2 separate regions of the Homo sapiens genome follow, and region 1 is linked to region 2. Evidence: fine-mapped expression QTL. A gene starts in region 2. The other region holds a variant in brackets. All regions are shown on one strand. Distances are between the middles of the regions. Region 1 overlaps TMEM38A (transmembrane protein 38A). Region 2 holds the start of TMEM38A (transmembrane protein 38A).

What was found. PIP is the estimated chance that this variant, and not a neighbour inherited with it, causes the effect.
Region 1: its variant is fine-mapped to the expression of TMEM38A in whole blood (TOPMed, PIP above 0.99).

The regions. Positions count from the first base shown.
Region 1 is chr19:16,678,330-16,694,000 of GRCh38, reverse strand. It overlaps TMEM38A (transmembrane protein 38A), which reads right to left. Exons shown (of 6, transcript NM_024074.4): 2 at 13,861-14,017; 3 at 13,420-13,604; 4 at 11,493-11,580; 5 at 7,596-7,713; 6 at 3,978-5,857. The coding sequence ends at 5,630. Among named protein-coding and RNA genes, the nearest start is that of TMEM38A, 25 kb to the right of the region's middle. RefSeq lists an enhancer at 13,944-14,444. The variant C/T (reference allele first, on the strand shown) is at 7,961.
Region 2 is chr19:16,654,941-16,670,611 of GRCh38, reverse strand. It overlaps TMEM38A (transmembrane protein 38A), which reads right to left and starts at 9,473. Exons shown (of 6, transcript NM_024074.4): 1 at 9,271-9,473. The coding sequence starts at 9,394. It overlaps SMIM7 (small integral membrane protein 7), which reads left to right and starts at 10,468. Exons shown (of 5, transcript NM_024104.4): 1 at 10,468-10,527; 2 at 10,612-10,653; 3 at 11,165-11,217. The coding sequence starts at 10,502. RefSeq lists an enhancer at 8,312-9,120 and silencers at 9,406-9,655, 9,676-9,875.

The DNA.
Region 1 (15,671 bases), 23 kb before region 2:
TGTTGGTTTTTTTTTTTTGAGACGGAGTCTTGCTCTGTCACCCAGGCTGGAGTGCAGTGGCGCAATCTCAGCTCACTGCAACCTCTGCCTCCTGGGTTCAAGTGATTCTCCCGTCTTAGCCTCCTGAGTAGCTGGGATTACAGGCAGGTGCCACCATGCCTGGCTAATTTTTGTATTTTTACAAAATTACACCTTGTTGGGGTTTCACCATGTTGGTCAGGCTGATCTCAAACTCCTGATCTCAAGTGATCTGCCCACCTCGGCCTCCCAAAGTGCTGGGATTACAGGGGTGAGCCACTGTGCCAGGCTAACATTTTGTTTTTTGTTTTGTTTTGTTTTGGTTTTTTTTTTTTTTTTTTTTTTTTTTTTGGAGATAGAATCTTGCTCTGTCACCCAGGCTGGAGTGCAGCGGTGCAATCTCAGCTCACTGCAACCTCCCCATCCCAGGTTCAAGGGCTCCTCCCGCCTCAGCCTTCAAGTAGCTGGGATTATAGGTGCACACCACCACGCCTGGCTAATTTTTTGTATTTGTAGCAGAGACAGGGTTTCACAACGTTGACCAGGCTGGTCTCGAACTCCTGAACTCAAGTGATCTGCCCACCTTGGCCTCCCAAAGTGCTGGGATTACAGACGTAAGCGATTGCACCTGGCTTCTATGTTTAACTTATAAAAAAACCTGCCAAATTGTCTTCCAAAGTGGTTGCACCTTTTTACCTTCCTACCAAAGCATATGAGAGTTCCTATTGCTCCACATCCTCACCAGCACTAAAATGACCATATTGTCATTTTAATTTTAGCCATTTTGTTGGATGTGAAGTGACAACTCACTGTGGTTTTGATTTGCATTCTTCTCATGGCTGAAGATGTGTATCTGACTGGGCATGGTGGCTCACGCCTGTAATCCCAGCATTTTGGGAGGCTGAGGCAGGAGGATTGCTTGAGCCCAAGAGTTCAAGGCCAGTGTGGGCAACAGAGCACGACTCCGACTCTACAAAAAATACAAAACTTTGCCAGGCATGGTGGCATGCACCTGTAGTCCCAGCTACTCAGGGGGCTGATGTGGAAGGATCGCTTGAACCCAGGAGGCGGAGGTTACAGTGAGCCAAGATTGAGCCACTGCATTCCAGCTTGGGCGACAGAGCAATACCCTGTCTCAAAAAAAAATGTAAAAAATTAAAAATTTTAAAAACATAAAAAACCTTAAAAGAAACTGTCCAATTGTCTCCCACCAGCAGTGTGTGAGTTCCAGCTGCCCCCAAATCCTTACCTACACTGGATATTGTCGGTTATTTTTATTTTATCCATTCTAAAAGGTGGCGGGGAGCAGTGGCTCATGCTTGTAATCCCAGCACTTTGGGAGGCCAAGGCAAGAGGATCACTTGAGCCAGAAGCTGGAGACCAGCCTGGGTAACATAGGGAGACCCCAACTCTACAAAAAAATTAGGCCGGGTGCGGTGGCTCACCCCTGTAATCCCAGCACTTTGGGAGGCCGAGGCAGGTGGATTACCTGAGGTCAGGAGTTCCAGACCAGCCTGGCCAACATGGTGAAACCCTGTCTCTACTAAAAATACAAAAAATTAGCTGGGCGTGGTGGCACATGCCTGTAATCCCAGAGGCTGAGGCAGGAGAATCGATCGAACCTGGGAGGCAGGGATTGCAGTGAGCTGAGATGGCGCCACTGCACTCCAGCCTGGGCAACAAGAGGGAAACTCCATCTCCAAAAGAAAAAAAAAAAAAGGCCTTATCTCCTGTCTTAGTCCATTTAGGGTGCTACAAGAAAATACTAGAAAATGGTGGCTTATAAACAACGGAAATTTATTTCTCACAGTTCTGGAGGCTGGGAAGTTCATGATCAAGATACTGGCAGATTCACTGTGTGGTAAGGGCCGGCTTCCTGGTTCATACGTGTCTTCTCTCTGTGTCCTCACATGGTAGGAAGAGCAAAGTGTTTCTTTGGGGCCTCTTCTGTAAGGGCACTAATCCCATTATGAGAGCCCCACCCTCATGACCTAATCATCTCCCAAGGGTCCCACCCCCTAATACCTTAGGGGTTAAGACTTCAACAAATGAATTTGAGAGGAACCCAATTCAATTCATAACAGGTATGCAGTGGCATATGCTTGTGGTTTTAATGTGCAATTTATATGATATCTGCCAACCATATAATTTCTTTGGTGGTGTCTATTCAAATCTTTTGCCCAGTTTTTTTTTGAGACAGGGTCTTGCTATGTTGCCCAGGTTGGACACCACCTAACGGGCTCAAGTGATCCTCCTGCCTTGGTCTCCAGAGTAGCTAGGACTACAGGTGTGAGTCACCATGCCCAGCTTCTTTTGCCCAATTTGGTGTGGAGTTTTTTTCTACTTTATTCTTATTTTATTTATTTATTTGAGACAGGGTCTCACTGTTCCGCCCAGGCTGAAGTGCAGTGGCCCAATCTTAGCTCACTGCAGCCTCAACCTCCTGGGCTGAAGTGATTTTCCCCACTCAACCTCCAGAGTGCCTGGGCCTACAGGCACGAGTCACCACCCCCGGCTAATTTTTAAATTTTTTTTTGTAGAGACAGAGTCTCACTATGTTGTGCAGGCTGATCACCAACTCCTGGGCTCCAGTGATCCTCCTGCCTCAGCCTCCCAAAGTGCTGGGATTACAGGCGTGAGCCACCAAGCTCGCACTTTTTTCCCTTATAATTGAAGGGTTCTTTTTTACAGCTTTATTGAGGCATCACTGACAAATGAGGTACTGTGTGTATTTGCAATGTACAATGTAATAGGTTCTGACATGTGTATAGACCCGAGAAACTAACACAATCAAAGAAGTTAACAGACTCATCACTCATGTCCCCTTGCCCCTTCAAAATCCCTCCTGCCCACCCCACCCTACCTGCCTTTCCCCAAGCACCCACTGATCAGCTTTCTGTAATTATACATTAGTTTGCTTTTTCTAGGATTTCATATAATGTATGTAATGTATACTGTACACAGTATACATTTTTTTTTTTTTTGAGATGGAGTCTCGCTCTGTCTGCCAGGCTGGAGTGCTGTGGCGCGATCTCCGCTCACTGCAAGCTCTGCCTCCCAGGTTCACGCCATTCTCCTGCCTCAGCCTCCCAAGTAGCTGGGACTACAGGCGCCCGCCACCACATCCAGCTGATTTTTTGTATTTTTAGTAGAGATGGGGTTTCACCATGTTAGCCAGGATGGTCTTGATCTACTGAACTCGTGATCCACCGACCTCGTGATCCACCTGCCTTGGCCTCCCAAAGTGCTGGGATTACAGGTGTGAGCCACCATGCCCAGCCTTTTTTTTTTTTTTTTTTTTTTAAAGAATGAGTTTTGCTCTTGTTGTCCAGGCTGGAGTGCAATGTCTCCACCTCAGCTCACCGCAACCTCCACCTCCCAGGTTCAAGCGATTCTCCTGCTTCAGCCTCCCGAGTAGCTGGGATTACAGGCACCTGCCACCACACCTGACTAATTTTTGTAGTTTTAGTAGAGGCAGGGTTTCACCATGTTGGCCAGGCTGGTCTTGAACTCCTGACCTCAGGTGATCTGCCCGCTTCAGCCCTCCAAAGTGCTGAGATTACAGGGATGAGCCACCATGCCCAGCCATCCCCACATCTTGAGGCCAAAATCCCAGGCATGTGGCTGGGCTCAGTGGCTCACACCTGTAATCCCAGCACTTTGGGAGGCCAAGGTGGGTGGATCATTTGAGGTCAGGAGTTCAAGACCAGCATGGCAACATGGTGAAACCCCGCTTTTACTAAAAATACAAAAATTAGCCAGGTGTGATGGCGGGCACCTATTATCCCAGCTACTCGGGAGGCTGAGGCAGGAGAATTGCTTGAACCCGGGAGGTGGAGGTTGCAGGGAGCCAAGATCGGGCCACTGCACTCCAGCCTGGGCAAGAGTGAGACTCGGTCTCAAACAAAAACAAAAACAAAAAACAAAATCCCAGGCATAAATCAGACAAGCCATGAGGGTTCATTCACAATGATTTATTGGCTGCCCCTCCACACCGAGCTGAGGTGGACAAGCAAGAGGATGAAACCTCCCCAGGACCCACCTAACTCCCAGGCATCACAGGAACAAGGCAATTTTCCAACAGCCTGGCAACGTCTGGGACTCCAACGAGGTCTGGGCCCAAACCTCACCTGAGACTGGCCACGCCCGTCCCATGCACCCACCCCTCTCAGACATCCTGGTGACCTAGGCTGAGATGAGGGTGACCAGGAGGGACCCTTCAGCTATAATATCATCCACCTCGCTCACACTGAAGCAGGCTCCTGGCCCGCCCAGCAGCAGCACAAGGCTGACCACAGAGCAGGTAAGCATCTGTATGTTTGTTCAATGGCTGAATGAGTGACAGTGGACTCCAGCCTGAGGGAGACCTGATACATCCAGGTCCCAACTGTGCACACTCAGAGCCCCTTGATAGAGCTGGATCGTGGAACCCCAACCAGCTGTTTCCATTTCTTTGGTTTAGGGGGAGCCTGAGACGAACAGATCACAAGCCTTTCACGCCATCTGATCTCTCAAGCCTGCCCTAGACGTGTCTACTGAGGGCTTCCTTTGTGCCAGGGAACTTGTGCGTTTCTCTGATCCACACACACGAATGATCTAAAATGCAAAGCCATTTGCAATCATAATTTCCAACTGTCCTGGTCTCCCCTCCTGACTGCACGAGGCTAGGAGCATGTGAGCCTTTTTTAACTGCAGCTTCGCATCGGCCCTTCCGTACAGAGGGGGGCCAAGGGTCTCCACTATACAGATGGGGAGCGCCAAGCTCAGAGGAGGAAGGCAACTTGTCCAGGGACGCCCAGCAAGAGTCGGGACTTTCTGGCCACGTGAAAATGTCTAGCCACTGAGGAGCGTGGTAAGAAGAGACTTTGAAATGGCAGCACCTGGCTCACAGGTACTTAGAAAATGTCCATCAAATGAATGGATCTCAACATGGCTTGAAGTTCTTCAGGAGTCAATATGCAATTTTTTTTTTTTTTTTTGAGACAGGGTCTTGCTGGAGACAGGTCTTATTGGCCAGGCTGGAGTGCAGTGGGAAGATCTCAGCTCACTGCAACCTCCACCTCCTGGATTCATGTGATTCTCCTGCCTCAGCCTCCCGAGTAGCTGGGATTAAAGGCGTGCACCACCACGTCTGGCTAATTTTTGTATTTTTGGTAGAGATGGGGTTTCACCATGTTGGCCAAGCTGGTCTTGAACTCCTGACCTCAGGTGATCTGCCCGCCTCGGCCTCCCAAAGTGCTAGGATTATAGGCATGAGCCACTGTGCCTGGTCAAGATGCAATTTTAAAGAAGGAAAAATACAACTAAGAATATCATGCCAACCAGTGACATTCTTGACTGGAGCTGCTGCCAGGATTCTGTGAACCCCTCCAAAAGCTGTGACTCTATGGGGTCCTGGCAGAGAGAAAGAGGGAACCCCGATTTCTACAAAAGTTCTTCATCCTCATCCCCATATCTCAACCCCCACATCAGCCCTGGAGGGTGAGCCAATGACCCTGATTTGCAGATGGGGAAGTCAAGGCCAGGAAAGGATAGATCTGAGCGCAGGAAGCCTCCCAGCTCAGAGGGTCCTGGGTCCGGGTCCTCTCCCCGGTGCCCCTTGGGCCACCCCCTAATCCGCCTTCTTGGCCTTCTTCTTCCTGGAGCCCTCGCTCAACTCCTCCTTGGACTTGGCGGGCATGGCCGAATGCTGAGCTCCTGGCCCACCACCGCTGTGGGACCCACCATGGTTGTCGTGGTGATGGTCACCCCCGCAGGCCGAACCAAACAGCACGGGGCAGATGTAGCCCTCCAGGGCATCAAAGGGGGAGCTGTGTGAGTGGGTGGCTGTCAGAAACACCTGAGGTGGGGTGGCCAGGGAGACAGCAAGAGAGACAGAGGGAGACCAAGGTAGAAAGCAAAGGAGTGGAGGGCAGGGTGGGGAGAAGAGGGGAGAGAATGTCATCAAAGTCAAGGTTGGAGGTAGCCCAGACCCAGCCCTCTGGCTGCATGCACCCCCAGGATGATGGGCGACCATCTCAGGTTTCCCAGGATGCCAGATTTCAAGTGTTGACCCCTGGAAAGTTCCAAGCACACTGAGACTGCTGGTCACCCATCCCCCAGAATTCCCCACGACACCTGGGCTCAGAGAAAAGCTGTGCTAAGTGCAGGTCTGAAGGTCTGTGTCCTCCCAAATTCATATGTTGAAACCTATCACAAAGGTGATGGTATTAGGAGGTAAGGCCTTTGGAGGGGTAATTAGATCATAAGGGTGGAGCCCTCAGGAAAGACATTAGTGCCCTTATAAAGAGGCCCAGGAGAGCTAACCAGTCCCTTCCACCATGCGAGGACACAGTGAGATGCTGCCTATCTGCAACCAGTAAAGAGGGCCCTCACCAGAACCCGACCAGGCTAGTACCCTGATCTTGGACTTCCCAGCCTCCAGAACTGTAAGAAATACATTTCTTCCTTTTCCTTTTTTTGGAGACAGGGTCTCACTCTGTTGCCCAAACTGGAGTGCAATGGCATGATCTCAGGTCACTGCAGCCTCCACCTCCTGGGTTCAAGCAATTCTCATGCCTCAGCCATCCAAGTAGCTGGGATTACAGGCATGCGCCACCACGCCTGGTTAATTTTTGTATTTGTATTTTGTTTGCCTGTTTGTTTGTTTTTGAGACAGAGTCTCAATTTGTTGCCCAGGCTGGAGTGCGGTGGTGCGATCTTAGCTCACTGCAACCTCCACCTCCCGGGTTCAAGCGATTCTCCTGCCTCAGCCTCCCGAGTAGCTGGGATTACAGGCATGTGACCCCACGCCTGGCTAATTTTTGTATTTTTAGGAGAGATGGGGTTTCGCCATGTTGCCCAGGCTGGTCTTGAACTCCTGGCCTCAAGTGATCTGCCTGCCTTGGCCCCCTGAAGTGTTGGCATGAGCCCCCGTGCCTGCCCAGGAATAAATTTCTGTTGTTTCTAAGCCACCCAGTCTATGGTACTGCATTCTGTTATACAGCAGCCTGAATGGACTAAGACATTTGGCCTGGGGTAGAGCTACAAACATAGCAGGACAGGATCCCAGCCATCTGCTTGCCTCTCCCTTCTCGCCTAATGCAGGAAGACATGCTCACTCCCTTTTGACAGCCCTGGAGTCCTCACCCAGGGAAGACACAGCCCTGAGCTAAGATCTTCATGCAGAGGGAGAGAGCCCAGCCCCTGAAGACCCCTCCTGGGTGGGGTGATGTCAACTCAAGGCATGACTGTCAGACTAGAAGTATTCCTGGTCCAACTGAGTTCCTGGGTACCTGATGCTGCCATTTCAGCTTCTTGTCCCTCTGGTCTCTGTACCCAAGAGAGTGGGCCCACCTTGACCCTGGCTCAGGCTGGGTCCTTTACACAGAAGGCCTGTTCCTCTCATCTGTGTCCTGGCTGCTGGACACTGCCTTTTAAACTCTCTTCCCAGTGACCTACTGGCAAGCATCTCCCCTCTCTGGGCTGCCTGTCCCAGCCACATAAGGCTGGGAGTGTCCAATTTCCCCACTCCCAACCTGGAGGTGGCAGGGTGGCATTGGTCAAGGCAAGAATGCTGCAAGAAGAGAAAGGCTTACCTTACAGGACACCATGAACAAGGTGAAGATGAAGATGAGGCTGGCTTTGGACACTGGGAGCCAGCGGGTCTGCTGGAGGGTGAAGAGGATGGCTCCATACAGGCTGGCCTTGGTGGGGCTGGAGGGAGCAGCTGTCATTACCGGGAGGTGCCTGCATGGCTCAAGTCTTCATAACTCTGGCCCAGACACCCCCCTGCCCTGGCACCAGCTCCCATCCCAGCTTCTCTCTTTTCTTTTCCTTTTGAGATGGAATCTCACTCTGTTGCCCAGGCTGGAGTGCAGTGGCACAACCTCGGCTCACTGCAACCTCCACCTCCTTGTTTCAAGTGTTTCTCCCACCTCAGCCTCCCAAGTAGCTGGGATTA[C/T]AGGCATATGCCACCATGCCTGGCTAATTTTTGTATTTTTAGGAGAGACAGTGTTTCACCATGTTGGCCAGGTTGGTCTCGAACTCCTGGCCTCAAGTGATCTGCTCGGCCTCCCAAAGTGCTGGGATTATAGGCATGAGCCACTGCGCCCAGCCACAGCTTCTCCTGATTGTAAGGTGGCAGGTTGAGATGGTGTCATCCTATGCATGATGGGTTAACCTGGTCCAAGGAAAGATCTGGCCTTTGTCCAGCTCCTGGAATATGCCCTCTAAGCCCTTGGAGTGTCCTGCCTTGATAAGACTGTCTTTGTTTGCCTGAGGACGGCCTTGGGCCACACCAGGTAGTAACAACGTAATTTATGGTGGGGGTCTTGGGCCATGCAGCATCAGGTGGACCTCTAGAGGGGCTGAAGACTGAGGTCAGCCACACAGGTGGTTAGCTAGTTCTGAGCCACAATAAAAATCCTGGATACCCAGGCTCAGAAGAGCTTCCCTGGTTGGCAGTACACCATGCATGTTGTCACACATTGCTGCTGGGAGAATGAAGCCCTGTCCACATGATTCCACTGGGAGAGGAAAACTGGATATTTTCACCTTTTCTTTCCTGTACTCTGCCTCATGCACATTTTGCCCCTGCTGATTTCTTGTTTGTGTATGAGTCAGAGTCTCATTCTGTCACCCAGGCTGGAATGCAGTGGCATGATCTCAGCTCCCTGCAACCTCCACCTCCTGGGTTCAAGTGATTTTCCTGCCTCAGCCTCCCGAGTAGCTGGGATTACAGATGCCCGCCACCACGCCAGCTGATTTTTGTATTTTTACTAGAGATGGGGTTTCGCCATGTCGGCCGGGCTGGTTTTGAACTCCTGACCTCAAATAATCCACCCGCCTCAGCCTCCCAAAGTGCTGGGATTACAGGCATGAGCTACCACGCCCAGCCAACCCCTGCTGATTTCGTTTTATTTATTTATTTATTTATTTATTTATTTATTTACAGAGACAGGGTCTCTCTCTATCACCCAGGCTGGAGTGCAGTGGTCTGATCATGGCTCACTGTAACTTCAAACTCTGAGGCTCAAGTGATTCTCCCACCTCAGCCCCCCAAGTAGCTAGGGCTAGAGTTATGTGCCACTGTGCCTGCTTAATTTTTAAGTTTTTTTTTTTTTTTTGTAGAGATGGAGTCTTGTTCTATTGCATAGGCTGGTCTTGAACTCCTGGCCTTGAGCAATCCTCCTATCTCGGCCTCCCACAGTGCTGGGATTACAGGTGTGAGCTGCCTCTGCTGATTTTATTCTATATCTTGTCACTGTAATAAATCATAACCCTGAATATAATGGCTTTGCTAAGTTCTCTGAGTCCTTCTAGCAAATCATGGAACATCAGGATGATCTTGGGGATCCCCCATCAGCTTATTTCCCCCAGAAAATGTGATTACAACATGCAGAGTTTTCCTTAACTTTTATTTTTTTCCTTGCAAAATAGGTTTAAGATATTTTTATTTGTTGCAAAAGACAGACCTGTGACTTCTATTCCTGATGTCTGTCTCTCATTGCTTTTTTTTTTTTGAGACAAGGTCTCGCTCTGTTGCCCAGGCTGGAGTACACTTGTGTGATCACAGCTCACTCCAGCTTCAACCTTCTGAGACCAAGCGATCTTCCTGCCTCAGCGTCCTGAGTAGCTGGGACTACAGGCACACACCACCACACCTGGCTAATTTTTTTTTTCTTTTTTTTTTTAGAGATGGGATGTTGTAATGTTGCCCAGGCTGGTCTTGAATTCCTGGTTTCAAGCAATCCCCCTACCTCAGCTTCCTGAATAGCTGGGATTACAGGGGTGGGCCACCATGCCCAGCTTCACTGCATGTATTTAATAATCCTTCCTTCCTCTCTCTCTCTCTCTCTCTGTTTCTTTCTTTGAGACAGAGTCTTGCTCTATTGCCCAGGCTGAAGTGCAGTGGCAGGATCTCGGATCACAGCAACCTCTGCCTCCCGGGTTCAACCGGTTCTCCTGCCTCAGCCTCCCATGTAGCTGGGACTACAGGCATGCCACCACCCCTAGTTAATTTTTTTTTTTTGAGATGGAATTTCGCTCTTGCTGCCCAGGCTGGAGTGCAATAGCGTGATCTCGGCTCACTGCAACCTCCGCCTCCCAGATTCAAGTGGTTCTCCTGCCTCAGCCTCCCAAGTAGCTGGGATTACAGGCATGCACCACCACACCCAGCTAATTTTGTATTTTTAGCAGAAATGGGGTTTCTCTATGTTGGTCAGGCTGGTCTCAAACTGCCGACCTCAGGTGATCTGCCCACCTCAGCCTCCCAAAGTGCTGGGATTACAGGCGTGAGCCACCGTGCCCAGCCTAATGATGATAATTCTCTCTAATATTTCCAAAGCACTCACCAGGTTCCAGGGCCAGGTGATTTAAATGCATGATCCCTTTTTTTTTTTTTTTTTTTGAGACAAGGTCTTGCTCTGCCACCCAAGCTGGAGTACAGTGGCATGATCCTAGCTTACTGAAGCCTCGAATTCCTGGGCTCAAGTAATCCTCTTGCCTCAGCCTCCTGAGTAGCTGGGACCACAAGTGCATCCCACCATGCCTAGCTAATTTAACTTTTTTTTTTTAATATAGAATAGGTCTCACTATGTTGCCCAGTCTTGTCTTGAACTCCTGGACTCAAGCAAACCTCCAGGCTTGGCCTCCCAAAGTGCAGAGATTACAGGTGTGAGCCACCACACCCAGCCCCCAACAAGGTCTTTTAAAAATGCACTAAACTGTCCAGGGCAGGGTGGCTCATGCCTGTAATCCCGGTATTTTGGGAGGCTGAGGTCGGCAGATCACTTGAGGTCAGGAGTTCCAGACCAGCCTGACCAACATGGTGAAACCCCATCTCTACTCAAAATACAAAAATTAGCCGGGCATGGTGGCACATGCCTGTAATCCCAGGTACTCAGGAGGCTGAGGCACGAGAATCTCTTGAACCTGGGAGGTGGAGGTTGCAGTGAGCCGAGATCATGCCAGCATACTCAAGCCTGGGCGACAGAGCAAGACTCTGTCTCAAAAAATAAAAAAATAAAAAACATTAAGCTAAATGCAGTGTGGGATCCTGCATTGGGTCTTGGATGCTGTCACCTGGCCTTGTCCACTTAGCTCCAGATATGCTCCCAATGCACACTCCATATCCCATGCATACCCTGTACCCTGACCCCGCACACCCAGCAGCACTGCTGCTCTTCTGTGATTTCACAGTTGGCAGAGATGCTGGCCTCTGTTGGGAGGCTCCTTCTTGGCCAGTGAACTCCTGCTCACCCTTCAAAACCCCAATCAGGTATTGCCTCCTTCCTGCAGCTCTGCCCTCCCCAACCTCCACACTGAGCAGAGCTATGGCTCTGCTTTGAGCTTCCCCAGTCATAGCCTCTGAAAGCTCCTGAAAGGCAGAGTCAAGGGTTGAGGCCTCTCTAAGTTATCAGCAGCATCCAACTCAGGGTCAGGCACCCGGACATACAGGAGGCATGGAGGGAGAGGTGGAGTGGGATACTCACAAAGACATGTGCAGGATCTCGTTGGTCTCTGGCTTCCAGACCCCTCGGAGCAGCTGCTCAAAGTTGGACATGAGGGCGACACCAGAACCTACAGGACAGGGTGCTTCTGAACAAGCCCACCACCCCCAGGTCTCCTTTCCTCTTGTTTGAATTCCCAAGGAAGCAGTCTCTCCACTCCCAGAATCTTCTCTAGAAGGACACTGAGCCTGGGGGTGTATGATCATCAGCTGCAGGTGGGGAAACTGAGGCTCAGAGAGGACAGAGCCTTGCTGAGGATCATATGGCAAATTCAGAGCAAAAGCCACCTAAAGGAATCAGTCATGTCCCCACCTGCAAGGCAGGTCTTCAACCTGGGGTTGTCTGTCCTGATGCCCCTAATCCAGGACCCCAAGCTGTGTATGAGGCTTCCAAGGCAGCCCCCACCCGCAGTCTCTCTCCTCCTCAAGGCTCCAAGTTCTTAATCTTTCTCAAGCCACCCATCCTCTGGAGGAGATGCTATACCCCTGGGGAATCTGCTCAGTACTAAAAGCTTCCTGGAGAGACAATAAGAAGACTCAAATGGAGATAGAATGATTAAATTTCTGGAAGAATCTTCCCATTTACCCTAAATGTACTGGTTAAATAGACTTGGACATCCACTCCAGGAACTGCTGCACCAACTGGGTGCCTGAGATGTACTACTGGACCAGGGAATCGCATCTGGGGCCATTTTGCCCCCAAGGAAGCATCTGGCAATGTTGAGAAACACTTTGAGTTGTCACAGCTGGGGAGGGAGCGCTACTGGTATTTAGTGAGTCGAGGCCAGGGAGGTGGCTCACCATTGTATAATGCACAGGTTGGCTCCCCATAGCAAGGAATAACTGAGGACACCATGGCTCAATGGAGGGTGATTCTAGGTCTTGGCACTTTGTGGGTACCCATATCTGGTGGGCAGGAAGCGAGGATAAAGTGCCCAATGGTTTTTGGCACTTGCTCAGGCCTTCTTTCCCTGCTTTCCTGTTACTCCTTGGCCCACTTCTCCAACTTTTAATGTTGAATTATCTCTTTCTCCCCTAACTTCTGTCCATTTTTGCTTTATGTATTTTGGTGCTCTGTTTCTAGGTGCATATATGTTTATAGTTGTTATATCTTCCTGGTGGATTGACCCTTTTATCATTATAAAACGTTCTTTATTTCTAATAACATTTTCATTATTACTTTATTTTTTAATTTTAATTTTTTAGAGACAGACTCTTGCTCTGTTGCCCAGCTGGAGTGCAGTGGCACAATCATAGCTCACTGTAATGTTGAACTCCTAGGCTGAAGTGATCCTCCCACCTCAGCCTCCTGAGTAGCTAGAACTACAGGCATGAGCCACCATGTCTAGCTCTATTTTCTGCACACGAAAGGGTCTGTAGGCTTCACTGGCAAAAGGGCCATGGTCCACAAAAGTTAAGAACTCCTATAGCTAGAGCTCTAGAGAAGAAGGGGTTCTCACCTGCAGCCATTTTGCCCTCTAGGAGGCGTTTAGCAATGTCTGGAGACAATTTCTTTGTCACAGCTGGGGACAAGTGTGCTACTGGCATCTCGTGGGTGGAGGCCAGGGGTGCTGTTCAACATCCTATAGTGCACAAGGCAGCCCCCACCACAAAGAATGATCCAGCCCCACATGTCAGTAGTGCTGCAAGTGAGAAAACCTGCTCTGGCAATGCTGGCTTTTGTCATCATCATCACTGTCTTAGGTACCCCTGACAGTAACATTTCTAGAAGAATCTTCCCATTTACCCTAAAGGTATCGGCTGATACCTGTAGGGAGGTTTGAACACCTACTGCAGTCTTTATGCCCCTGTGCCTGGAGCAATGGCTTTCCTAGCTGGGGTGCCTGGTAGTACCACTGAACCAAAAGTTCTCCACTGGGATGATTTTTCATTGTCATCATCCTATTTACCTTTGACCCACCCAGTTGCAATCATGACGAACCACCCGTGGTGGTAGTGGTGATGGGCGTGATGGATGCCCACCGCGATCTTGCGGACTCGCACCACCTCCTTCATGGCCACGAAGATGAGTTTCACAGGCAGGAAGCAGACACACTTGTAGAAGAGGTCCAGGGGGCAGAAGAAAATCAAGTACCTTTTGGGGAGAGAACAGTGAGTGCCAGGGGATGGGCAGACTGTGAAGGATGGGGGTAGGGAGCTGTGGTTATATCAGACCACCCTCCCCAACGTGCTGTGCCTAGACCAGAGATGGGCATGGAGGGCAGCATATTCAGGGCCATCATGAGGGCTGTTGCTGGTGCATTCTAATTCCTCCAACCTCTCTCCTCCCTGGTGCCCAGGTTGTTGTTTCCCCCACCCGGCTCTGCTCTCCCATGCCCAGCATGGCTTACCAGACAGCTGAGGCCAGCAGGATGCTGGAGTTGTTGCTGAAGTAATCGATCAGTGGCTCCCCAAGGAGCAGATCAGCCAGGATGTAGCTCCCGAAGCAATGCAGCATGGCGCACAGCCAGGACGCGATGGGGTGGCGCCGGGACAGTTCGACTGCTCCTGGGAGGCACAGGAGTGTCCCCCATCATCACCAGCATGCCAAGGGCAGGCTTCACTCCCATATGCTCTGGTCAGCCTATCCTAATCCAGAGCGCCCACCCAACACTGTGCAGTTTGTAAGTTTCAGAGGAGGAACCAAGGTTCAGAGAGGCTGTACGCATGCCTGAGGTTGCACAGAGAAAATAGAGAGCCGAGTGGGAGTCCTTTCCTTCATGCCCAGAGAGGTGGCAATGATGATGACACTAGTTCACATTTAGGACTTAATAAATCCTCATCAGTGTCCCAGCCAAGTGATGGCTTTTATTATCAGGAGTCTCATTGTCAAGAGGAGACTGAGGCTTGGTGAGACGGGCCAGCTTGTACCTGGGAGTACTTTGAAATTGCTACTCTGGGCCGGGCATGGTGGCTCACACCTGTAATCCCAGCACTTTGGGAGTCCAAGGTGGACAAATCACTTGAGGTCAGGAGTTCAAGACCAGCCTGGCTAACATGGTGAAACCCCGTCCCTAAAAATACAAAAATTAGCCGGGAACGGTAGTGCATGCCTGTAATCCCAGCTACTCAGGAGGCTGACAGGAGAATCACTTGAACTCAGGAGGTGGAGGCTGCAGTGAGCTGAGATTGCACCACTGCACTGCACTCCAGCCTGGGCAACAGAGCAAGACTCCATCTAAAACACACACATACACACACACACACACACACACACACACACACACACACACACACACGAAACAAAAGAAATTGCTATTCTGACCTCAGCTGATCCCAAGATCCCTATGAGCTTATGCTGGTATTCTTTTTTTTTTTTTTTTTTAACTTTTTTTGTTTGTTTCAAACAGAGTGTCACTCTGTCACCCAGGCTGGAGTGCAATGGTGCAATCTCAGCTCATTGCAAATTCTGCCTCCCAGGTTCAAGCGATCCTCCTGCCTCAGACTCCCGAGTAGCTGGGATCACAGGCAGCCACCACCATGCCTGGCTAATTTTTGTATTTTCAGTAGAGAAGGGGTTTCACCATGTTGGCCAAGCTGGTCTCCAACTCTTGGACTCAAGTGAACCTCCCACCTCAGCCTCCCAAAGTGCTGGGATTACAGGCATGAGTCACCGTGCCCAGCCTTATGCTGGTATTCTTACACCTGCTGTCTTAAAAAGAATTTTTTTTTGTAAAATATACATTAAATTTATCACTTTACTTTTTTTTTTTTTTTTTTTTTTTGGACACAGGGTTTCACTCCCATCACCCAGCCTGGAGCGCAGTGGTGCAATCACGACTCACTGCAGCCTTGACTTCCTGGGCTCAAACACTCCTCCCACCTCAGCCTCGAAAGTATTTGGGACTACAGGCACGCGCGCCACCATGCCAGGCTAATTTTTTGTATATTTAAAGTAGGCACGGGGTTTCGCCATGTTGCCCAGGCTGGTCTCAAACTCCTGGGCTCAAGCCATCCACCTGGCTCAGCTTCCCAAAGAGTTGGGATTATAGACGTGAGACACCATGCCCAGCCCATTTTAAACATTTTTAAGTGTATAGCTCTTTTTTTTTTTTTTTTTTTTTGAGACAGAGTCTCACTCTGTCACCAGGCTGGAGCGCGGTGGCGCGATCTCGGCTCACTGCAACCTCCTCCTCCCGGGTTCAAGTGATTCTCCTGCCTC
Region 2 (15,671 bases):
TGACCACACCAGATCTATATCAGTCATTTCCAAAGATGCCTGTGAGGGTGAAAAAGAGATTGCTTAGCGCCTAGCAACGACGCAAGAGGTATTTCTGGAACAGTGCGGAAATGGAAAGTACCTGTGGGTGGAAATTTCAGTAGATGGATTTTTTAAAAATCAGCTCTGCCTCGGCTGGGCACGGTAGCTCATGCCTGTAATCCCAGCTACTCCGGCAGCTGAGGCAGGAGAATCGCTTGAACCTGGGAGGCGGAGGTTGCAGTGAGTCGAGATCATGCCACTGCACTCCAACCTGGGAAATAGGAGCAAAACTCTGTCTCAAAAAAAAAAAAAAACAAAAAACAGGCCGGGCGCAGTGGCTGATGCCTGTAATCCCAGCACTTTGGGAGACCGAGGCGGGTGGATCACAAGGTCAGGAATTCGAGATCAGCCTGGCCAATAGAATGAAACCCCATCTCTATTAAAAATACAAAAATCAGCTGGGCGTGGTGACAGGCACCTGTAGTCCCAGCTACTCGGGAGGCTGAGGCAGGAGAATCGCTTGAACCCATGAGGCGGAGGTTGCGGTGAGCTGAGATCGCGCCACTGCACTCCAACCTGGGCGATAATAGCGAAACTCTGTCTCAAAAAAATAAAATAATAAAATAAAAATAAATAAATAAATAAACAAACAGAAAAAAATCAGCTCTGCCTCAGAAGAGAGGAAAAAGCTTTGGGTCCCTAAGTCCTGGTCTGCAATGGACTCTGTGACTTTCCCTTTTCAGGGGTCAATGCCTCATTTGCAGATGACTGGGTGGTACTAGAAGGGTCCCCAGGGCACTCTAGCACTGTGCTATTCAGTCAGAGGTGTATGAAGCATGGGGTACTGACCGAGTCTCTCAGTGACTCTAGGACCAGTCTTCTCCTCCTGAGCTTTTGAGCTCAGCATTCTGCCTCAGTTTCCTCCCCTGTTAAATGGAGATAGCAGCCTCTCCCTCACAAGGTGGAGCAGGAGTCAACAGCCTCCTGCCCTCAAAAAGCTTGTAGTTCAAACCAGAGATCTCAAATCAGGGATCAAAGAATGGTTTTCTTTGGTCCTAACAGCATATGAAAAATGTTAAAACTTGTCTGGGTGTGGTGGCTCACACCTGTAATCCCAGCACTTTGGGAGGCTGAGGCGGGTGGATCACTTGAGGTCAGGAGTTCAAGACTAGCCTGGCCAACATGGTGAAACCCTGTCTCTACTAAAAACACAAAAATTAGCTGGGCATGGTGGCGGGCACCTGTAATCCTAGCTACTCAGGAGGCTGAGGCAGGAGAATTGCTTGAACCAGTGAGCCGGAGGTTGCAGTGAGCCGAGATCACACCACTGCACTCCAGCCTGGCAACAGAGTGACTCCGTCTCAAAAAAAAAAAAAAAAAGTTAAAACTGCAACCAAGATGTCCTGCAGGGAGTGAGTGGATAAACAAACCATGAAACATCCTTACTATGAAATACTATTTGGCCGGGTGCAGTGGCTCACGCCTGTAATCCCAACACTTTGGGAGGCCAAGGCGGGCAGATCACCTGAGGTCGGGAGTTCGAGACCAGCCTGGCCAACATGGAGAAACCCCATCTCTACTAAAAATACAAAAAATTAGCCAGGCGTGGTGGCACATGCTTGTAATCCTAGCTGCTTAGGAGGCTGACACAGGAGAATCACTTGAACCTGGGAGGCAGAGGTTGCAGTGAGCCAAGATCAAACCATTGCACTCCAGCCTGGGTAACAAGAGCAAAGTCCATTTCAAAAAAAAAAAAAAGAAAGAAAAAGAAAAAAGAAAGAAATATTATCCAGTGAGCTATCAAGACATGAAAAGACATGGAGGAACCTTAAATGCATATTCCTAAGTGAAAGAAGCCAGTCTGAAAGGGGTACATACTGCATGATTCCAACTAAAGGACATTCTGGAAAAGGCAAAACTCTGGAGGTAGTAGAAAGAAAGATCAGTGGTTGGCCGGGTGCAGTGGCTCATGTCTGTAATCCCAACACTTTGGGAAGCCAAGGCAGGTGGATCTCCTGAGCCCAGGAGTTCAAGACCACCCTGGGCAACACAACAGAACCCCCATCTCTTTTTTTTTTTTTTTTTTTTGAGACAGAGTCACTGCAACCTCCGCCTCCCCCCAGGTTCAAGCAATTCTCGTGCCTCAGCCTCCGGAGTAGCTGGCATTACAGGCTTGCGCCACCATGCCTGACTAATTTTTATATTTTTAGTAGAGACAGGGTTTCACTGTGTTGGCCAGGCTGGTCTCCAACGCCTGGCTTCAAGTGATCTGCCTGCCTTGGTGTCCCAACTTGCTGGGATTACAGATGTGAGCCACCTCCTTCAGCCCCATGATTCTGAGTTATTTATTTAATTAATTTATTATTTATTATTTATTTTTCTGAGACAGAGTCTTGCTCTGTTGCCCAGGTTGGAGTGCAATGGCATGATCTCTGCTCACTGCAACCTCCGCCTCGCAGGTTTAAGTGATTCTCCCACCTCGACCTACCAAGTAGCCAGGACTACAGGCGCCCGCCATCACGCCTGGCTAATTTTTGTATTTTTAGTAGAGACAGGGTTTCACCATGTTGGTCAGGCTGGTCTCAAACTTCTGACTTCAGGTGATCCACCAGCCTCAGCCTCCCAAAGTGCTGGGATTACAGGCGTGAGCCACCATGCCTGACCCACAATTCTGATTTAAATGAAAGAGGGGTGACAATCAGGACAAAAGGATTTTTTTTTTTTTTTTTCTGAGACGGAGTCTTGCTCTGTCACCCAGACTGGAGTGCAGTGGCAAGATCTTGGCTCAATGCAAACCTCCACCTCCCGCGTTCAAGCAATACTTGTGCCTCAGCCTCCCAAGTAGCTGGGATTACAGGTGCACACCACCATGCGTGGCTAATTTTTGTATTTTTTCTTAGTAGAGACGGGCTTTCACCATGTTGGCCGGGCTGGTCTCGATCCTGACCTCAAGTGATCCACCCGCCTTGGCCTCCCAAAGTGCTGGGATTACAGGCATGAGCCACCACGTCTGGCCCAAAAGGATTTTTAAAATCTCCCTAGGTGAGTCTGGTGTGTAGGTGAGTTTGAGAAGTACTGGTCTGAGAGATTCTTTGGATGGGTCAAGGCTCAAGGCAACCAGGATTGTCATTGATTCACTCATTTCTTCAGTTTTGCAGCCAGCACTCAACTGCTTCCTTCTCTTTCCTCACATGGAGCTTGGAGGCCCCAGAAATGAGCCAAATCACCCGCAGATTTTGCTCAAATACAGACTCTCATTGGGCAGAGCTGGGTGGGGCCTGGGTTCTGCATTTCTTTCTCTTTTTTTTTTTCCTGAAATGGAGTTTCACTCTTGGCTCTTGTTGCCCAGGCTGGAGTGCAATGGCGCAATCTCGGCTCACTGCAACCTCCACCTCCCTGGTTCAAGTGATTCTCCTGCCTCAGCCTCCTGAGCAGCTGGGATTACAGGCGTGTGCCACCATGACTGGCTAATTTTTGTATTTTTAGAAGAGACAGGGTTTCGCCATGTTGGCCAGGCTGGTCTCGAACTTCTGACCTCGGGTGATCCGCCCGCCTCGGCCTCCCAAAGTGTTAGGATTACAAGTGTGAGCCACTGAGCTTGGCCAGAACTCTGCATTTCTTTTCTTTTTTTTTTTTTTGAGATGGAGTTTCGCTCTTTTGCCCAGGCTGGAGTGCAGTGGTGCGATCTCAGCTCACTGCAACCTCCATCTTCTGGTTTCAAGCGATTCTCCTTCCTCAGCCACCCAAGTAGCTGGGATTACAGGAGCCCGCCACCATGCCTGGCTAGTTTTTGTATTTTTAGTAGAGACGGGGTTTCACCATGTTGGCCTGGCTGATCTCAAACTCCTGACTTTGTGATCCAGCCACCTTGGCTTCCCAAAGTGCTGGGACTATAGGCATGAGCCACCGCAGGGGCTCTGCATTTCTAATCAGCTTCCAGGTGACATTGACACTGCTCAGTTGAGGACCACACTCTGAGCTTCATTCTTTCTCAGGATTCTCAAGAAAGCCTCACCCAGCCAGGCACAGTTGCTCATGGGAAGCTGAGGTGGGAGGATTGCTTGAGCCCAGGAGTTGGAGGCCACAGTGAGCTATGACTGTACTACTGCACTCCAGCCTGGGAGACAGAGCAAGACCCTGTCTCGAAAAAAAAAAATTTTTTTAAAGTTAAATTGGCCAAGAGCAGTGGCTCACACCTGTAATTTCAGCACTTTGGGAGGCTGAGGCGGGTGGATTACTTGAGTTCAGGAATTTGAGACCACCCTGACCAACATGGTGAAAACTCATCTCTACTAAAAATACAAAAAAAATGGGCCAGGCGCAATGGCTGATGTCTGTAATCCCAGCACTTTGGGAGGCCAAGGTGGGCGGATCACGAGGTCAAGAGATTGAAACCATCCTGGCCAACGTGGTGAAACCCCGTTTCTACTAAAAATACAAAAATTAGCTGGGCATGGTGGCGCGTGTCTGTAATCCCAGCTTCTCGGGAGGCTGAGGCAGGAGAATCGCTTGAACCCGGCAGGTGGAGGTTGCAGTGAGCCGGGATCGAGCCACTGCACTCCAGCCTAGAGACACGGCAAGACTCCGTCTCCAAAAACAAAACAAAACAAAAAAATTAGCTGGGTGTGGTGGTGGATGCTTGTAATCCCAGGTACTTAGGAGGCTAAGGCAGGAGAATCACTTGAATCTGGGAGGTGAAGGTTGCAGTGAGCTGAGATCGTGCCACTGCACTCCAGCCTGGGCAGCAAAACAAGACTGCATCTCAAAAAAAAAAAAAAGGAAAAGAAAAGAAACAGAAAAGTAAGCAAGCCTGACCCAGAAAATGCCAGTATCCCAAGTAATATATTCCTCCCTAGACTTCCAAATAAACATCACCACCCCTCACAAATGCCTTAGACCTTATCCCTGACAAAATTCTCAATAGATCTTTACAATCGCTAGGAAAGGGAGTCTGGGGTTCTCTTACCAATGATCCCATTTCACAGACAAATAAACTGAAGCTCATGGTGGTGAAATAACCATTGTGGTGTTTACTCAGTGCTAGTGGTAGAACTGACTCCCATGATTCAGAGACGTTTAGTTTCTTTTTTCTTTTTTTTTTGAGACAGGGTCTCACTCTGTTGCCCAGGCTGGAGTGCAGTGGCACGATCATGGCTCACTGCAGCCTCCACCTTGCAGGGTTCAGGTAATCCTCCGACCTCAGCTTCCCTAGTAGCTAGGACTACAGGCACATGCCACCACACCTGGCTAATATTTTTGTATTTTGCATTTTTTAATTTTTATTTATTTGTTTATTGAGACGGAGTTTCATTCTTGTTGCCCAGGCTGGAGTGGAATGGCACAATCTTGGCTCACCGCAACCTCTGCCTCCCAGGTTCAAGCGATTCTCCTGCCTCAGCCTCCCTAGTAGCTGGGATTACAGGCATGTGCCACCACGTCCGGCTAATTTTGTATTTTTAGTAGAGACAGGGTTTCTCCATGTAGGTCAGGCTGGTCTTGAACTCCCGACCTCAGGTGATCTGCCCACCTCAGCCTCCCAAAGTGCTCGGATTACAGGCATGAGACACCGCGCCTAGCCATTTTTGTATTTTTTATAGAGAAGGGGTTTCACAATGTTGCCCAGGCTGGCCATGAACTCCTGGCCTCAAGCAATCTTCCAACCTTGACCTCCCCAAATGCTGAGATTATCTGACCTATGCTGACATTCTTTTTTTATTATTATTATTATTTTTTTAGGAGACACGGTCTTGCTCTGTTGCCCAGGCTGGAGGGCGGTGGGGTGATCATAGCTCGCTGCAGCTCCCAGGCAACATTGATGCTGCTCTGTTGAGGACCACACTCTGAGCTTCATCCATTCTCAGGATTCTCAAGAAAGCCTGACCCAGCCAGGCGCAGTTGAGCTCCAACTCCTGGGCTCAAGTGATCCTCCAGCCTCAGCTTCCCAAGTAGCTGGGACCACAGACACACACCACCATGCCTGGCTATGAAATTCTTAATTTCTGAACAAAAGGCCCCACACTGATACTTTGTATCGGCCTGGCAAATTCTGTAGCTGGTCCAGCACACAAATTCTGAGAAGAAAATTTACAGATACCCAGCACGCACACCAAACTGGGACTAACAGTTCAATCCGACACCTCACTTTTCTTTTCTTTCTTTCTTTTTTCCAAGACAGAGTCTCAGCCAGGCTCTGTCACCCAGGCTGGAGTGCAGCAGCGAGATTTCGGCTCACTGCAACCTCCGTCTCCTGGATTCAAGCTATTCTCATGTCTCAGCCTCCCAAGTACCTGGGATTACAGGCGTGCGCCACCACACCTGGCTATTTTTTTGCATTTGTAGTGGAGACGGGGTTTTGTCATGTTGCCCAGGCTGGTTTCAAAGTCCTGGGCTCAAGTGATCCACCCGCCTCGCCTCCCAAAGTGCTGGGATTACAGGCATAAGCCATCACATCTGGCCTCCAACACCTTTCTTTTCTAAGGAAACCAATCTCACATCAATTGTACTGATTCTTAGAGTCAAGCAGACCTGGGCTGAGTCCCGAGGCTGCAACTGACCAGCCATGGGACCACAGGCTCATTGTGTATTTAAGATAGCTTAGCCACTATTTCCTGTTTCCCCAGTTATGAAAGGAGGAGGTTGAACTGGGTGGAGTATCCTCAGCCCTGATAACAGACATCAGTCACTGAGGGAGGGGAGATTAATATTCTGATTCAATTGGTGGGGGGTGGAGATAGGGGGTTTAAAAGCTCCTAGGAGGCCGGGCGCAGTGGCTCACACCTGTAATCCCAGCACTTTGGGAGGCCGAGGCAGGCGGATCACAAGGTCAGGAAATCGAGACCATCCTGGCTAATACGGTGAAACCCTGTCTCTACTAAAAATACAAAAAAAAAAAAAATTAGCCGGGCATGGTGGTGGGCGCCTGTAGTCCCAGCTACTTGGGAGGCTGAGGCAGGAGAATGGTGTGAACCCAGGAGGCGGAGCTTGCAGTGAGCAGAGGCGGCGCCACCGCACTCCAGCCTGGGCGACAGAGCGAGACTCCGTTTCAAAAAAAAAAAAGAAAAGAAAAAAAGCTCCCAGGAGCGTCTCATGAATTCATGAATAGCCAGGGTTTGGAACCACTTCTCAGCCTTCAGGAACCTTCAGGCTCTGGCACTTAGAGCCTGGATGGCTTATTCTAGGACTTCTGCAGAAATATCTTGAACCTTCCTGCAAGTTCCCAGGCAGCTTGGAGACCTCTTTTCTCAAGACATTTGTGTCCTACATTCCCACAGGGCTCCAACCCTCCTCAGTTTCAGATTTTTTTTTTTTTCGAGACAGAGTCTTGCTCTGTCGCCCAGGCTGGAGTGCAATGGCGTGATCTCGGCTCACTGCAACCTCCGCCTCCCAGGTTCAAGTGATTCTCCTGCCTCAGCCTCCCAAGCAGCTAGGATTACAAGCATGTGCCACCATGCCTGGCTAATTTTTTTATTTTCAGTAGAGACGGGGTTTCTCCATGTTGGCCAGGCTGGTCTCGAACTCCTGACCTCAGGCGATCTGCCCGTCTTGGCCTCCCAAAGTGCTGGGATTACAGGCGTGAGCCACTGTGCCCAGCCAGTTTCAGATTTTCTAAGGTTCTGCAACTGCCCAAGGAACTGGCCTGAACCACCAAGAATTCTTCCCCAGAAAGGAAAGATAGCCCCATGTTCATGCTAGGACAACACAAAAGCCTATTTTGTTTTGCAAAGTAATGTTCTCCAGGATAGCTTTTAAGAAAATAGGCTCTGGCATGTGGATAGGCAAAAATAGAATAAAAATTCCTAGCAAATAGAGTGTAATCCTGTTAGCATAAGAGCGTGCATTGGCTGGGTGCAGTGGCTCACGTCTGTAATCCCAGCACTTTGGGAGGCCTAGGTGGGTGGATCACAAGGTCAGGAGATCGAGACTATCCTGGCCAACATGGTGAAGGCTTGTCTCTACTAAAAATACAAAAATTAGCCAAGTGTAGTGGCGGGTGCCTGTAGTCCCAGCTACTCAGAAGGCTGAGGCAGGAGAATCGCTTGAACCTGGAAGGTGGAGGTTGCAGTGAGCCGAGATCACGCCACTGCACTCCAGCCTGGGCGACAGAGCGAAACTCCATCTAAAAAAAAAACCGCAAAAAAAAAAAAAAAAAAAAAAGCGTGCATTTACGTTTATAACTATATAGCCGTAAATGAATAGAAGAGACATCAAGAAAGGTGGCTGGCCACCAGTATGTTGACAGTAATTCTCTTTTTTTCCTTTGCCCTTTTCAGTTTGAGTTTTTAGTAAACAGGGGCGCTTATTTTTATCCTCTGAGAATAAAGCTATTTCCTTTCTGAGCTATAGTGGTAATTTACATCTAAGTGGGAGAAAGGCTTATGAAGTTTGGGGTTCCTTTATTTTTCTAAGCCTAAAATCTATTATCTAGTAAGTTGCTGGTGTTCTAGAATAACGGTGAACAAGAAACATTTAAACATTTGTTCACGGTGAACCTTTTATAAAAATAGAACACGTTCTAAGGAAGCCATTCATCCTCATTTTAAAAATTAAGAAGCAGGCTGTACCCTCCTGTGACCTCCCCAGCGTGGAGTCTGGAGCTGAGATGGAGGACACTGACCCCAAGTCACCCAGCCTTGGGGCCGGTTCTGCTCCGTAAGTGGAAAGGATCTGGAGCCAGGGCTGGAAGAATTCCCGTGGGGGCTCGGAGATTCAGCACCGTGGGGGAAGGGAGGGGAGTGGAGGGTGCTGGGCAGTTGCAGTGGGGAGGAGAACCGGTGTCACTTTCGCTGAACCTGACCGCAGCCCCCAGCGCAGTGGCCCTTATAGACACTCCGCTGGCGCTCTCAATCCGCGTGCCAAGGTCAAGGAGGGAGGTCACACCTGCGCGCGGCCAGAACAGATGCACCGACCCCCACCTGCACCCTCGCCACAGCCGGCGCCCCTTGCCCAAGTTCCTGCAGCTCTGACCCAACCAGGAGCCCCGACCCCAAGCACCTGTTCCCCCTCCTCTAAACCCGCGCACGCCTCTCCTTCCCCTCCCCCAGCTTCATCGTCCTGGGGGCTTCTCCCCCGGGCTCACCCCGGCGTGAGAGAACCCCACGATTCTAGCGCCTGCCTACTCCCACGATGCAATCCTTGAACCTGTCCCTCGCTCCCTCCACCACGCACGGGCTTCCCCTCTCTGCGACCCCCGAGCTGCCCCGGCCCGCGCCACCCGCTGCCGGTCCCCTCCAGCCCCCCGCCCCGGCTCACCTGGCTCATACTTGAGGTAGAGGATGGAGACGATGAAGTAACTGAGGTCGAAGACGGGGAAGAGCGGCACCCGCGAGAAGCTGAGCGCCAGTTCGCCCAGGCTCAGCGCCGAGAGCAGCTCCATGGCGCCCGCCTGCCCGCCTGCCGGGTGCCACCCGGGGCCCCGGCCTCGTCCGTCCCGCCGCCCGCGGCCCGGCGACTGCGCCCCCGCAGCTGGGCCCGCCCCCGCCCGCCAGGCGCCACCCCAGGCCCGGCCCCCGCGGGAGAGGAGGGGCGACGGCCCACCCCGGGACAGGTGGTGGGGACGCCCAGCACCACGGACGCAGCTGGACGGTCGGGCGTCCCAGGCGTTGACCCTCCTGCCATCGCTACCCCGTTCCGCCCAGCGAGGCGGGGTGCGGGGCACCCGTGCAAGGCGAGGGAGGCTGGGGAGCTGCCTGTTCTGGGGGCCCGTCCCTCACGGAGCCCACCCACGCGGGACGCCCGTTCCCAGGGGGCCGGATCGGCCAGGACTTTGTCCCCGTGGGCTCAATTAGGACCCCGATCTTCGGTGGAGCCCAGTGAGGACCCCTACGCCATGGTGGGACCCCATGAATCAGAACCCCTGTTCCCCGTGGAGATAGGTTAGGACCTCGGTCCTCTGTGGAGCCCCGTCAAGACTTTTCTGCCCCATAGGGTCCGTTCGATCAGGAACCCCGTCTCCGGTGGGGCTCTGCAAATCAGGACGTCTTGTGGGGGGCAGCTCAGTGGGAACCCCCGTTCCCCATGGGGCCCAGGAGGATCTCATTTTAGAGCCCAGTTGGTTGGGGCACCCGTTTCTAGGGACCCCACTGCGTCAGGACCCCGCACCCTGTGCAGCTCAGGAGTCAAAGGATTCCTTTTGTCCAGAAGCCCAATTTGGGACCCCAGAAAGTGAGTAGGAATTGCTGCCCAGCTAACCCTACGGCATCGAGACCTCACGCATGCGCGGCACGCTTCGAACGCGTGACCCAATCCCGCCCCCAGGAGACCCCGCTCCTCCCATTCTGGCTCTCGGGGCCTCCCCAGCGAGGTGGGGCGCTCGCGCTCCCCTAAGGGGGTCTGGCCTGCAGAGGGCGGGACCCTCCCAGCCTTGACCTTCGATTGGCCCAGCCCTCGCCACTGTTGCTTTAGGATTGGTCGGCTTGTGCTCCTCTCCCCTCCCTCCCTGGGGCTTCCGCTTCCGGTTCTGACGGACGCTTCGGCCGTAACGATGATCGGAGACATCCTGCTGTTCGGGTAATTAGGGGGACCAGAGGCTGGGAAGAGAGAGCCAGGCAGGACGCGGGGGCGCCCCTAGTAACTGTAATTCTCCCTCTGCAGGACGTTGCTGATGAATGCCGGGGCGGTGCTGAACTTTAAGCTGTGAGTAGGTCGCGGCCGGACTGCGGCTCCATCCGGGGAACCCGTAGCCCCGCCCTCATAAGCGTGATCTCGGCGCACTTCTCAGGCCCCGCCCCCAAGCCGCAGGCCCCGCCCTATCCGCCCTCTGGGCACGCCTCCAGCCTGGTTTATCTTCCTCGCCCCCCACCCCCCGAGAGACCTTAAACCCATACTCTCCGTTCCTTGGTTGTCCCTCTGTTCACCTTCCTGGAGAGCTTAAGCCCCATCCCCCAAGAAATAGCCCCACCGCGGACCTTCCGCCCTGCACCCGCACTGTCGGGCCACTTTGTAAACGGTCGGTGGCTGCTGACCTGGCTGTGATTGTCCGGGCAGTGGGGGCCCAGAGAAGGGTATTGAACGTCAGAGGTCACACAGCAAGTTTGCGGCAGGGCCAGGGCTGAAACTTAGTGTTTGTGGCCTTCTGAGCTGGGGGTCAGGGGGCTGAGGACTCTATGTCCCATTGAAAGTGGACACTGTCTGCTCCTCTTTGTAGGAAAAAGAAGGACACGCAGGGCTTTGGGGAGGAGTCCAGGGAGCCCAGCACAGGTAAGGTCTAATTGGATCCTGGAATTGCATGGTCCACTTCAGAGGACAGTTCTGTTTCGCCAAGCCCTACCTTCGTTTTCTTTCTTTCTCTTTTTTTTTTTTTTTTTTTTTTGACACAAGGTCTTGCTCTGTTGTCCAGGTTGGAGTGCAGTGGTGCGATCATGGCTCACTGCAGACTCGACCTCCTGAGCTAAAGTGATCCTTCCACCTCAGCCCCCTTAGTAGCTGGGATTACAGGTGTGTGCCACCATGCCAGGCTAAATTTTGTATTTTTTGTAGAGATGGGGTTTCTCCACGTTGCCCAGGCCGGTCTCGAACTCCTGGGTTCAAGTGATCCCTGCCTTGGCCTCCCGAAGAGCTGGGATTACAGGCGTGAGCCACAAGTTTTCTCTTTAATTGAGCGTGTGTGTGAGTGGGAGATGACTGAGAATGTGCTAGCCTTTCTGCCTACCTCTGTCATCTATTTCTTTCTCCTACCAGACCTCCCTGATGTGAGCACTCACATCACTTCCTACCGTTATAATGTTCTGTTATGTTTGCTGTCATCTGGCTAATGTCTGCCCCTCACATATGACTGTAAACTTCAGAGAAGAGGCCCTAGCTTGGCTTGTCCCATCCTTTGTTCTTGCCGTACCCGTCCTCCGATGCCTGTGAATGAATGAATGAACAACCTCACACATAGCTGTTGCTTTCAGAGTGCTGCAGACCTGCCACTTTTAAAATTAGATGCCAACATTAGATTTTTAATCAGGAGATTTTATATAAAAATTAAGATGTCTGATTTTTCTTGAAAAATTGGAACATTCTGCAACTCAAGATTCAGGAGAGCTGTTTGCATCTATTGAGTGTAGTTGAGAAGGACTCTGAGGAGGTGGGGCCTGTAGACTCTGCCTCATCCCAGCCCTAACCCCTTCATATGTCTATCATCTGCCTGGGCCCTGGAGGCCCCAGAATTTACACTTCCTGCTGAATTTGATTGTGTAACTATTTGGAGTCTTAAGGGGATCTGTACATGACTATTGTATCCATTCATTAATTCTTTCATTCACCAGATATTTGAGTACCTAACGCATGCTGGCTACTGTGCTAGGTGCTGGGGTACAGCAGGGGTAAGACAGATAGAGTGGAACTTACCATGGGGTGGGACACATGGTTTCTAAGCAGGGAATAGATAGTGACAGAGGTGACGTTAGGTGACAGAGGCAGGGAGTCACAGGATGGTGATGGGGTTGCCCTCCTGCTGGGGTGTGGAAGGGAAGGCCATTTGAGGAGGCGGCGTCACAGTCAAGGCGGTGGATGCCATGATGGAGCACTGCCCAAGGATGGGGGAACCCTGAGGAACAGAGGTTTTCTTCTTTTAGAGACAGGGTCTTGCTCTGTTGCCCAGGCTGGAGTGCAGCGGCACAGTCATAGCTCACTGCAGCCTTGAGCTCCTGGGTTCAAGAGATCCTCTTGCCTCAGGCTCCCAAGTAGCTGGGACTACAGGCACTTACTACCACGCCTGGCTAATTTTCTAAATGTTTTTTGTAGAGATAGGTATCTCGCTGTGTTAACCAGGCTGGTGTCCAACTCTTGGTCTCAAACGATCCTCCCACCTCAGCCTCCCAAAGTGCTGGGATCACAGGCATGAGCTACCACGCCTGGCCGAGCTGAGATTTTGAAGACACTCCAGCAGCTCCCCTTTTTGGGGGCCTGCCCTTGGGTGCTGACCCAGTTAGGTGCTTCCTGTTAGTGTTGCATTCTCCCTCCATTCTTAAAAGATAATGGTCACTTTCCCATTTTACAGATCAGGAAACTGAGGGTCAGAGATGTGGCTCAACTTTTTTGTGGCCACATAGGGAATCAATGAGAATCAGGATTAGAACCTGGGTTTTTCTGACTCTAGCGGTTGTGCACTCAATCACTAGACCATCTGTCCGTCTATCCATTGATCCATCCATTCATACATTGACTCAGCAGCCATGTGTTACTTAACCCCCACGTGGAAGGCACTACCAGGCCCTAGAGTTGCACTGTACAGATCCGAATCAGAGCTCCAGTGGGCGGGAGATTTGGCACAAAGTGGCAGGAGCATCAGTGACAGGGATGCCAGGCAGGGCACCAGTGCTCTGTCAGGAGCTTCCTGCTTTGCTGTGTCCAGTCTCCTTCCAGCCCAGGTGCTGCACCTGCTGCTTCCCCTGTGGGAGCTGCTCTTTGCCCTCCATCCTCTTTGCCTGGCTTAACTGTAATACCATAGTGGCTGCATTTGTTGAGAGCGTCATGCGTGCCAGGCAGTGTGCTAAGGTCTTCCTAGCTGCCTGACACCCCTATTGACACAAGAGGGAATGCACATAGATAGTGCAGGGATGGTCCCAGGTCACCAGGTCACCTGTGCAGAAGGACAGAGGCAGGATTTGAGCTCACATTTGTTAAACTGCCCATGTTTGAGGTCAGAACTTGGAGCTCTGGCACTTCCTCAGAAAGCCTGTTTTTTGTTTTTTTGTTGTTTTTTTTTTTGAGATGGAGCCTCTCTCTGTTGCCCAGGCTGGAGTGCAGTGGCACCATCTCAGCTCCCTGCAATCTCCGCTTCCTGGGTTCAAGCAATTCTCCTGCCTCAGCTTCCCTATTAGCTGGGATTACAGGCACCCACCACCATGCCCAGCTAATTTTTGTATTTTTAGTAGAGATGGGGTTTCGCCATGTTGGCCAGGCTGGTCTCGAACTCCTGACATCAGGTGATCTGCCCTCCTTGGCCTCCCAAAGTGCTGGGATTACAGACTTGAGCGACGGCACCCGGCTGGAAAGGCTTTTTTTTTACCTCCCACCCTTCCCCATGCACATGCCATGTTGGGTCTCTGCAGTGTGTATTCCCAGGACACCCAAACTTTCCCACCAGAGCAGTCACATGTGAATATTTGTTTAGTATTTCTCCTCCCCATATGCTTGTTGGGGCAGAGCCACCGGTCTTTGTTTCTTTCTGTATCCCCTGTATACTGCTGTTGCCTGGAATGAGTAACCTTTTTTTATTTTTTGAGACAGAGTCTCACTCTGTTGCCCAGGCGTGCAGTGGCGTGATCTCAGCTCACTGCAGCCTCCACCTCCTGGGTTCAAGTGATTTTCGTGCCTCAGCCTCCCGAGGATTTGGGATTACAGGCACGCGCCACCACGCCCTGCTAATTGTTTTGTAGTTTTAATAGAAACGTGGTTTCACGATGTTAGCCAGGCTGATCTCAAACTCGCGACCTCAGGTGATCCACCTGCCTCGGCCTCCCAAAGTGCTGGGATTACAGTTGTGAGCCACTGCACCCGGCCTGGAATGAGTAACGTTTGATTGGCATCTGTTGATGGTGGGAGGTCCTGTTTTCACGATCCTTCGCTAGGGGAAGGGTCTTGCTGAGCAGCGCCTCTCAAAACTTCCTGGAAACAGACCAAGCATTTAATGTTTCTAGTCTGTGCTGGATCAGCCCTGTATACAGGTTGTGCTGCACGTGACTAATCCTGTCGGCTAGATAATACTAGGCTCGTCTAAACCGTTTTCAGCAAGATGGTGTGTTCAGCACAAGCTCGGATGGAGCAGGGATGTCAGGTTGTCATCCCTGAAAAAGTAGAAATTTCTGGGCTTGTGTTGTGTATGCTGTACTTACCATGCAGCCCCAGTCTGCAGATACTTCGGGTAGCACCCTTGTAGATCACCTAATCTGGAGCCATTCTTTTTTTTTTTTTTTTTTTTTTTTTGAGATGGAGTCTTGCTGTGTCACCCAGGCTGGAGTGCAGTGACACCATCTCAGCTCACTGCAATCTCTGCCTCCCAGGTTCAAGTGATTCTCCTGCCTCAGCCTCCTGAGTAGCTGGGATTACAGTCATGCACCACCACACCCGGCTAACTTTTGTATTTTTAGTAGAGACGTGGTTTCACCATGTTGGCCAGGCTGGTCTCGAACTCCCGACCTCAGGTAATCTGCCTGCCTCGGCCTCCTGAAGTGCTGGGATTACAAGTGTGAGCCACCATGCCTGGCCTAATCTGGACCCATTCTTTTCATTCTGGAGGGCTTGAGAGGGAGAGTGATTGACTGGAAACCCTGGAAGAAGGGTCTAGAACCCAGGTCTCTGGAGTCTTCACGTACTAAATTGCCTTCCCTCGGAGGGGTTTCTGTTCCTTGGCATTCAAGGGGACCAGAGTAAGTCATCACCAAGAAACACCTTCCCTTTCACTTGCCTGAATTAGGATGCTTTCAGTTACAAACACTGCAAACCCAGCTCAAAGTGGTTAAAGCAAATTGAAACATCCAACAGAATTGTTTTCAGGCACCCTGGGTTTAGGTGTCAAACCAGTCCTTCAAGATTAGGGTTGGGGTTGGAGTTGGGGTTAGGGTTAGGGTTAGAGTCAGTATCTGACTCTCTGCAGCTCTCAATTCCCCTTTCTTTTATGTTGGTTTTACTGTGAGACTGGTTAGGGTTGGCAAAGATGACCCCAG